Regions from separate parts of the Homo sapiens genome. Here regions 2 and 3 are each linked to region 1. Evidence: fine-mapped expression QTL. A gene starts in region 1. Each other region holds a variant in brackets. All regions are shown on one strand. Distances are from middle to middle. Region 1 holds the start of PREP (prolyl endopeptidase). Region 2 overlaps PREP (prolyl endopeptidase). Region 3 overlaps PREP (prolyl endopeptidase).

Region 1 (2,759 bases):
GGGTGCCCTGTAGACTCTAGAGTATCTCTACTTATTTATGAGTAGGAAGGCCGTCAGAGTGGTTAAGAATGAGCATTGGTATTGGAGAGACCTAGGTTGGAATCCTGGCTCTACTTTTTCACTTTTTGTGAAGTCCTGGGCAAAAGTCAGCCCGTTTTCCTTAACTATAAAATAGGGACATTAGTTCTAGATAGTTTCCTGATACACTGAAAAAAACACTCCATAAGCATTAATATTATCATTAGGGGGTCTGCTGGGTCAAGTGCTCCTGGGTTGCTCTTTAAAAAATCCCTCACAGTGGCAGAAGGAGGAGACAATGCCTGCCAGTCCCTGCGTCAGGTGACAGCCAGGGAAGGCACGAGGTGGGAACTGGAATTGGGACTTCTGGGCTGTAGTGGGCTATGCCCCCGTGTTTGCACAAAGTTTGTTATCAATAGCGTGAGTTCTCCCAGAATTGAGGATTCTCAGATTGCCCCAGGAGGGGGTATCTGGGATCAGATGCAGAAAATGATTATGACACATCACTATGAACAGAAATGGTGAACTAAGGGTGAGGCATGGAATTGGGACCATATCACAAAAGAGACGGAGGACACAAGTTTATAATAGTTACCATATCCACTTAGATTCCGGAGGTGAAGGACTTTCTGGTCACACCTATTCTTTCTTCCAGGACTTTTTGGAAGCCAGGGATAGAAAACACACTGGGCACACACTATACCCCTGATGGCTGGGGCTATAAAGTCTCTTCTGGGTGGTCCAGGAAGCAAGACCAGAACACATACCGCTGCTGGCCCGAGGATGATGACATGTAACTATTAAATTTTCATGGGTTTGAGGTCAAGTATCTTGTCTATTATCTTTTCTTCCCATAAACAGTAGGTGCTCAATAAACAAGCATGACAGCAGGAGAGGAAATGAGGAAAAGGCAGGATAAATAAAATACCCCTGATGAGTTCCAGGCCTCTTAATCTTGGTTCTTTCTCAATCGGTAAATATCAAATAAGGGCTCAACCGTAGTCCTGCCAACACCTCCAAAGCATCTCCATAGTCCGGATGCTAAACCACCCAGTGTCCACCAGGGGTCCTGGGATGAAGGGAGACGTGTTTCTTTCACGGTCATCATGATCGATTACTTCTTCCCTTCAAGTCCAGAGTCGCAGGCAGTGGACATAAGGCCACCTCCAGCCCTCTGCTTCCAAGGCTGGGGAGAGGCAAGGTCTCCCTTCGCCGCCGTAACCAGCCCGGGAACAGGAAGGCTGGGGAAGGTGGGGGACTCCATCAGCAAGGAAACCCTGGGGCTTCACTCTCCTACAGGCGGTCCTGCGAGCGCGGCCAAAGAGAGGCAGGGCGCTAGGGAAGGCGCGGGGACCCGGCCTCGGTGGAAGGACTTGTCCCCGGCGCAGAGGACGGGCGGGCGGCCGGGCGTGGGCGAGCGCGTAGCCGGCGTGCTCCTCCGTGCGCCCGGGCGGCGCGGGCGCGGCCGGCGATCCTGCAGAGGGAGCTGTGCGCCGGCCTTAGCGCACGCTCGGTGCCGCCCGCTCCCTCTTGCCGCCGCCGCCGCCGCTGGGCCCGCCCGCCGGGGAGGGGCTCCCGGCCTCGCAGACAGCGGCTTCCTGCTTTCTGCACGTCCTCGCCGCCGCGCCGCCAGTCCGTTTGTGCTAGCTCTGGCCGTGAGCCGGCCGCCCGCTGCCGCCGGCCGCCCCGCAGCTGCCTGCGCCCCAGCCGCGCCTCGCGGCCAGCCCGGCTAGCTCAGGTCCGCTCCCGGAGCCCGCGCCCCTCCACGCTGCCCCCTGCCTGTCCCCGGCCATGCTGTCCCTTCAGTACCCCGACGTGTACCGCGACGAGACCGCCGTAAGTATCTCTGCCTCCGCCCAGAGGGCTCCCGGGCAAAGGTGCCCAGCCTGCCTGACCCGTGGCACCCGCAGCTCCTCTTCCTGTAGGCCTTCGACCCCCGCGTCCCTCCCCTCCCCCTCGGCCTTTGTTTGGGAGAATTGGGCCGGGGGCGCGGGGCTCCTCTGCAGCGCTGGGGTCCCGCGGGCGGTCACTCTGCTAGTGCTGGCGGCGGAGCCTGTGGGCAGCGCCGCCCGGCCGCTTCCTAGAATCAATGGGGTCAAGGGCAGACGCCCGGGTAGAATGGGTGTCTTCAGGGAGTGGGAAGACAGACGGTGTCACTGCTTTTTTGACTGGCGAAGCCTCTTGCTTAAATATGGTGGTAGGAGAAAGTGTCCGCTGGGGTGTGTGTGTGTGTTTGTGTGTGTGTGTGTGTGTGTGTGTGTGTGATGTCACATTTAAAAACGAAAACAAACTTTTAAAACTTACACTTTAAAGTCCTTAGAGTTGAAGCATATTCGTTCGATTTTAAAAGGTGTGTTGAGCGCCTACCCTGTCCCAGGTCGGATGAGGCGCACTGGGCCCTGGGGATGCCAGAGACCCGGACAGAAATGGGGAAGGCGGAGCAGTGACCCCATAGTGTGGCCGTGCTGATCCATGTTTTCTTAAACAAGAAAAGGAGTTGAGAGAGGGTGAGAGGAGGTCTTAGAAGGGAGAGGGGTTGACCTTTTTCAGAATGAGTAAGTTTTGTCTAGTGGCGGAGTTGACCACCATTTGCCTAAGCTGCAGATGAACTCAAGGTAACTGTTGAGATCCAGTAGGCGGAATTCTGGGCAGACACCTTTTTTGTGTAAACGTGAATTTGACGACTTAGGAACTGGATTGCATCCACATGTTGTGGCCGTGATTCTCTTACTAATAGCTAC
Region 2 (2,759 bases), 39 kb after region 1:
GCCACCATGCCCAGCCTAAGAGTAATGACTTTAAAGAATAGCAATAAATAAAGGGATGCATCTCTACTGCACAGAAGTAATAAATGAAGTTGTTTAAAAAAAAAAAAAAGCTAAAGGAACAATATAAAGTGAGTCCTTTATATTTGATCTTTATTGGATCAGGGCCCTATTTAGTGAATTACGCAGAGGAAGTCTGTAAGAAAACTCGTGGGCTCCGTAAACAAGAAGTGGGCGTAGACTTCCCTCAAGCAGTGTTCCAGAACTTGGGTGGTCTTGTTGTGACTGGTGTCATCCCACCAGTTACCATGGCTGGTCAGGCAGGTCTGGCTGGCTAGGTAAGTGCTCCTTCCTTCCTCCTTTCCCAACCCAGCTGTATGTGATCTTCTGAGCAAAAGGACCATCTTGCTACATGGAGGAGTACTCTTGTCACTTAAACATGAACTCTAGAGTTCTGCTGCTGTGACGCCTCAGAAGCCTCAGGTCCAATCTGAATTGATGGTCCAGTTCCAAGTCTTCACTCAGAAAAATCTGGATCATGAAAAAAATCTTGAGGTGGGAATTTCTTGTGCCCTTCAAGAAGTGTGATAAAGCCAGGGGAGTCCAAGAAGCAGGTGCACTGTAGAACTAGCTGGGCCAGAAGCACCCATGGCTGGTGGACACATTAGCTCTCAGGCTATTCACTGGAAATGAAGCAATTTCTTAACAGCCTTTATTTAGTGATTTGCATCTTAGAGAAAAGCAATAAATGGAATCCCACTCTGTCACCCAGGGCGGAGTGCCGTGGCATGATTTCGGCTCGCTGCAACCTCCGCTTCCCAAGTTCAAGCAATTCTCTTGCCTCAGCCTCCCGAGTAGCTGGGATTACAGGCTCATGCCACCATGCCTGGCTAATTTTTGTATTTTTAGTAGAGACAGGATTTTACCATGTTGGCCAGGGTGGTCTCAAACTCCTGACCTCTGATCCGCCCATCTTGGTCTCCCAAAGTGCTAGGATTACAGGCGTGAGCCACTGTGCCCAGCTGTAGTCCTCTTTATAACCATGTACCAAAGGCATGTGCTGCAATTGTTGCTTTTATTTAATTGTTGCTTTTGTTATAAAAGTACTTGCTTTTAGTCCAGTCATAGAACCTAGTATTTAGATAACAGTTTTTACAGTGTCTGTGATGAGAGAGCCAGTGTTAGAGTGGGAGGACTGTACTGGAACAGAAATTTTTATTCTAGTTCGGTCTGTGGCCTTGGGCAAGTCACTTAATCTGTTCAAGGTCATTTCCTTTATTTCTTCCAGGGCTTTTTCAGCTCTGAAACTGGACGGAGGATTTATCACAGCATCTCTTAGCCTCCTGGGAGAGAACTTAGCTGCTGGGTGTGAGAGAAGCAGGACACAGGGCAGGATGCGGGCTTTGTGGGTGTGGGTGGAGGAACCCTGTGGGCAGAGACTGGATGTGCTTGTGGACGTGTGCAGATTTCTCTGGCTTGCTGTCGTCAACCTCCCCTTCGGCTGCCGCAGTCCAAGTTCACTGAGAACTTCTCTTTATATCCTAGATGCTGTCTCCTCGTGACTCATCTTCCTTCTTCACAGATACCTCCTCTGCCTTCCTGCATGGACAGGTCTGTCTTGCCTTGATCAGGCAGATCTCAGGAAGTTCCAATCAGGAAGCAGCTTTAGTTTCCCCACTGTTGCCCTCCGTCACGCTGTGACAGCGTGTCTTCCCGGGACGACTGCCTTCAACCTGGCAGA[A/T]CTCCTTGCTTTCTGGACACTTTTGGTTATTGGAACTGCTATTAAAGGTTCATTGCAGTCCAGAACAAAATATCACTCTCTCCAATTTACATGCTTTCGCCCTCTACCCAGCTCAAGTTTGCCAAGCCCCTCTCCTTGCCTATTCACCCTGTTAGTTTTCCCAGTAGCCACTCAGGGAGGAGGAGTAAGACAAGAGAAACTGGAGTTTTGCTTATTGGGAATTGTTTGTTGGTCTATCATTGTTGGCCTCTCTTGGCTGCTTGCAATGAGGATGTATGTCCAGGTTCCAGCTCTCCTTATGCCATCCTTTTTTCAGAGACATCCCCTCGATTTTAGGAAACTCTGTACTTTGCTGTTCCCTGATGTGGGTTATAAACTCTCTGGCTGCCCTTTTGCACCACCTGCCTGCCCCAAAGCTTTTGATCCCAGAAGCATTCCCTCGAGATTCAGACTTCTCTGCCTTTCCTTCCTCCACCCTTTTTCATCAGGGACCTTTCAAGATGTCTCAAGGCCAGCTGTCTTCCTGGTAGCTTCCTGGGTACCTCTTGCTCCAGGGGAAGGCATATCCATGGGTTACTCTGTTCTGGAGGTACAGGATGTGTTCACTGCCCTCCTCACTTTCAGCCAGGGACCTCGGGAAGCCTCCCACATTCAGTCCCTCCTGCACATGTCCAAAATGCTGGGCTCAGGAACAAGAGCTCCCTTGTGCCCCTGGGGTGTAACATGAAACAGCTGCCATTGGGCTTTGATGGGCAGAGGTGCCAGTTATTTAATATAGACTGTGAGGCTTTACTTGAAGGACAGTTTCATGGCAGGAGAGAAATTGTCAGGTTCTATTGGACCAAAAAAACCCAAAAACCCACAAAGCTCTGTTTTAAAGTGAATTGTGAGCATCTGGGGAGAAAAAAAATCCTAAAGAAATCAAACACTTTGTGGCACTGTTCCCAGCAGAGGGTGCTCTAGAATGAAGATTGTGAAAATGCATCATCCCTTTAGAAAGGATTAAGGAAAAAATGCCCAG
Region 3 (2,759 bases), 100 kb after region 1:
AGCCCCTGGACCTGCGGCCTGAGAAAACATGCGCCTGCGCCACTGGCCCAGCAAGCACGAGGAGAACCTGAAGACCAAGCAGCAGCCGCGGAAGGAGCGGCCGTACCCGCTGCAGAAGTACACAGTGAACGCCTGAACGTCACATTGTCAATAAAAGAGAGCTGGCCGAAGAGAACAAAAGAAAAGTGTGTATTTAATATGCAATTCTGTATTCATTCAACAAATATTTATTGAAGGCAAACAATGCAGAACTCATAACCCTCTGATGATGGACTCATCATGTGGTTCTCATGCAGGAGCAAAACACACAGCATATGCCTTCCATGTGCAGCATAAATCCCATTGCAGTGAGCCATGTTACAGGGCAGTTTCTGCCTGTACCAAAACAGACGCTGCTTTCTCTGGGCCTCCGCGTGTAGCAGGGTTCCTTCACTTTTAATGAAAATGTCTGATTGTGTGTCTTCATTAACTACAAAGAGATCAGACCAGTGGAACTGAAGATGGCTTTGATGTTCTACAATCAAGTCAGATTTATTCATCCTAGCCCTGTGTGTCTTTCTACCTCAAAACACCAGGTTACTGCTAAAATCCAAATAAACTCATCAAAGTGCCATAGCACGAGATCCAGCTGTGCCTCCTTCACTGCCCTTCTTTCCTTGTATTCAGAACTTCCACTTTCTATTTCGCTTTTGGCTTCACAGTTTGAGACTGGGAAAAGGCGTATTATTCCAAAAAACAGATGGCTGAGCCTTAGAGAGCTGGTGAATTTCTGCAGAGATGATCAGTATAGCACTTAGCACATTGTTGGTGCTCAAGAAATGTACTAAAAGTTAAAACAGATTTTAAATAGACTGACTTTGCTGTAATTGAGGTATCCTAAGGGAGCTTTTAAATCCCCAGTGTTACCAAAATGCCCAGCCATCCTTGGAAAAACTAACTAAAGCAGTCTGGAATAGACTTTCCTTCTGTATTTTCTGCCCAAAGATGACTCTTAAACTCCTCTCTACTCCCCAAAAGTTAAATGCCTGGAACATAGACAAGATGACAACCTTCTAATGCCAGGCTAGCATTTTTCACCTTAGTACAGCACAGAAACATGTAATGCCTCCCTCTAAGTCCTAGGAAGTTCTTCATATGCTCATGTTACAGGGTAACTGAAGCACGGAGTTTGCCCGCCTACTGTCCAGTTCTTTTGGTAATGGAATGTCTTGTTCCTCTGCATGCTGCCTGTGGACTCAGAGCAGTTCTGCTCCTTGTCAGATTTATTTGGCACACGTAGCACAGACCACACAAGTGGCCTCTGTCAACTCTGATAAAAAGGGGGAGCTCAACACCCTTTTATGAACATTCTCCTTTAAACCTGTCAGGCTCTAAAATTAGGCAGGAGTTGCTATCACC[A/C]GACATTCTTCTGTCTGAAGGGGCTGCCCTTTGCAGCCTACCTTCATCTTTCATAGATGAGCACATCTCATGACTGGCGATAATGGGAGTCCTGGCATTTGCCTCAGATAGCTCAGTATCTGAACTGCATCAAATGCATTACTGAAGATTGTTTTCAGGAACCTAACTGATTGCACATTCGTGCGTCTTAACACAATTGATTTTATTACTAAATGTACGCATCTCAAGGAGAATAATAATTTCAAGAGAGACAGTTGATCTTTGCACAACTAAGGTCATTGATTTGAAGGAACAGTAATGTTCCATTGATTTGTCATATTTACTTCTCTTTTTTCTTTAAAGGAAGATATTCTTTTTTTTTTGAAATCAGATTTACATGTTAAGGCAGCTAGATGTGTGTTTAGTGATTGCCCTCTTGTGCTAAAACATGCTTCCAGAGTTAAACTGCTTTATCATTGGTGATGCCTCTGGAAAGTTGTGCTTGACAACAGAGATGGGATTTCTGAAACTTTAGACTTATGTACTTTATATAAATGTACACCATTTCTTCAGTAGTTTTTTTTTTTTAACATAAAGCATTCAGCTCAAGGATCTGTGAGTTCTTATCTGTTAAACAATTATTCTTAGAATATGGTTTTAAATGTGCAAAATCAGAAGCTGCTTTAAATTTAATTGATTACTTAAAAAGTTGGGATAGCTTTATGATTTGCTCAAGCATTTTTTTATTTGTGAAATGAATTGTGTCTGTTAAGCCTTAAAAAAATACTATTGAAATGGAATTTTTTTGGTAGAATGGCCATGGCAAGATATAGTGGGATTTTTATTGTTTTAATAATCTGTCTTCAAGATGGTAACACTAATGACTGTGTGGAGAAGGATCATCTTTCTAAGCTGACTCATTTTGCTAAAATAGTAACAGCAGCCCCTCTTGTATCTGGAATATCGCTTTTGAAATGTTTGAGTGAGTCTCCTTTTTAAGAAAATAACAAAAACAGTCTGGGCGCGGTGGCTCACGCCTATAATCCCAGCACTTTGGGAGGTTGAGATGGGCAGATCACTGAAAGTCAAGAGATCGAGACCATCCTGGCCAACATGGTGAAACCCTATCTCTACTAAAAATACCAAAGTTACCCGGGTGTGGTGGTGCACACCTGTATTCTCAGCTACTCAGGAGGCTGAGGCAGGAGAATCGCTTGAACCTAGGAGGCAGAGGCTGCAGTGAGCTGAGATCATGCCACTTCACTCCAGCCTGGACAACAGAGTGAGATTCCGTCTCAAAAAAAAAAAAAAGCAGAGAAGCAAATAAGGGATAGCATCTCTGGCAGAATGATATTTGTCCCCAGGATTCCCTAGAGATAGGT

The links. PIP is the estimated chance that this variant, and not a neighbour inherited with it, causes the effect.
Region 2: its variant is fine-mapped to the expression of PREP in skeletal muscle (GTEx, PIP above 0.99).
Region 3: its variant is fine-mapped to the expression of PREP in atrial appendage (GTEx, PIP above 0.99).

The regions. Positions count from the first base shown.
Region 1 is chr6:105,401,942-105,404,700 of GRCh38, reverse strand. PREP (prolyl endopeptidase) reads left to right here and starts at 1,619. Exons shown (of 15, transcript NM_002726.5): 1 at 1,619-1,854. The coding sequence starts at 1,810. RefSeq lists a silencer at 1,342-1,911.
Region 2 is chr6:105,363,230-105,365,988 of GRCh38, reverse strand. All of the region lies in intron 6 of PREP (prolyl endopeptidase), which reads left to right. Among named protein-coding and RNA genes, the nearest start is that of PREP, 38 kb to the left of the region's middle. The variant A/T (reference allele first, on the strand shown) is at 1,739.
Region 3 is chr6:105,299,830-105,302,588 of GRCh38, reverse strand. All of the region lies in intron 10 of PREP (prolyl endopeptidase), which reads left to right. It also overlaps the pseudogene RPL35P3. Among named protein-coding and RNA genes, the nearest start is that of PREP-AS1, 22 kb to the right of the region's middle. The variant A/C (reference allele first, on the strand shown) is at 1,399.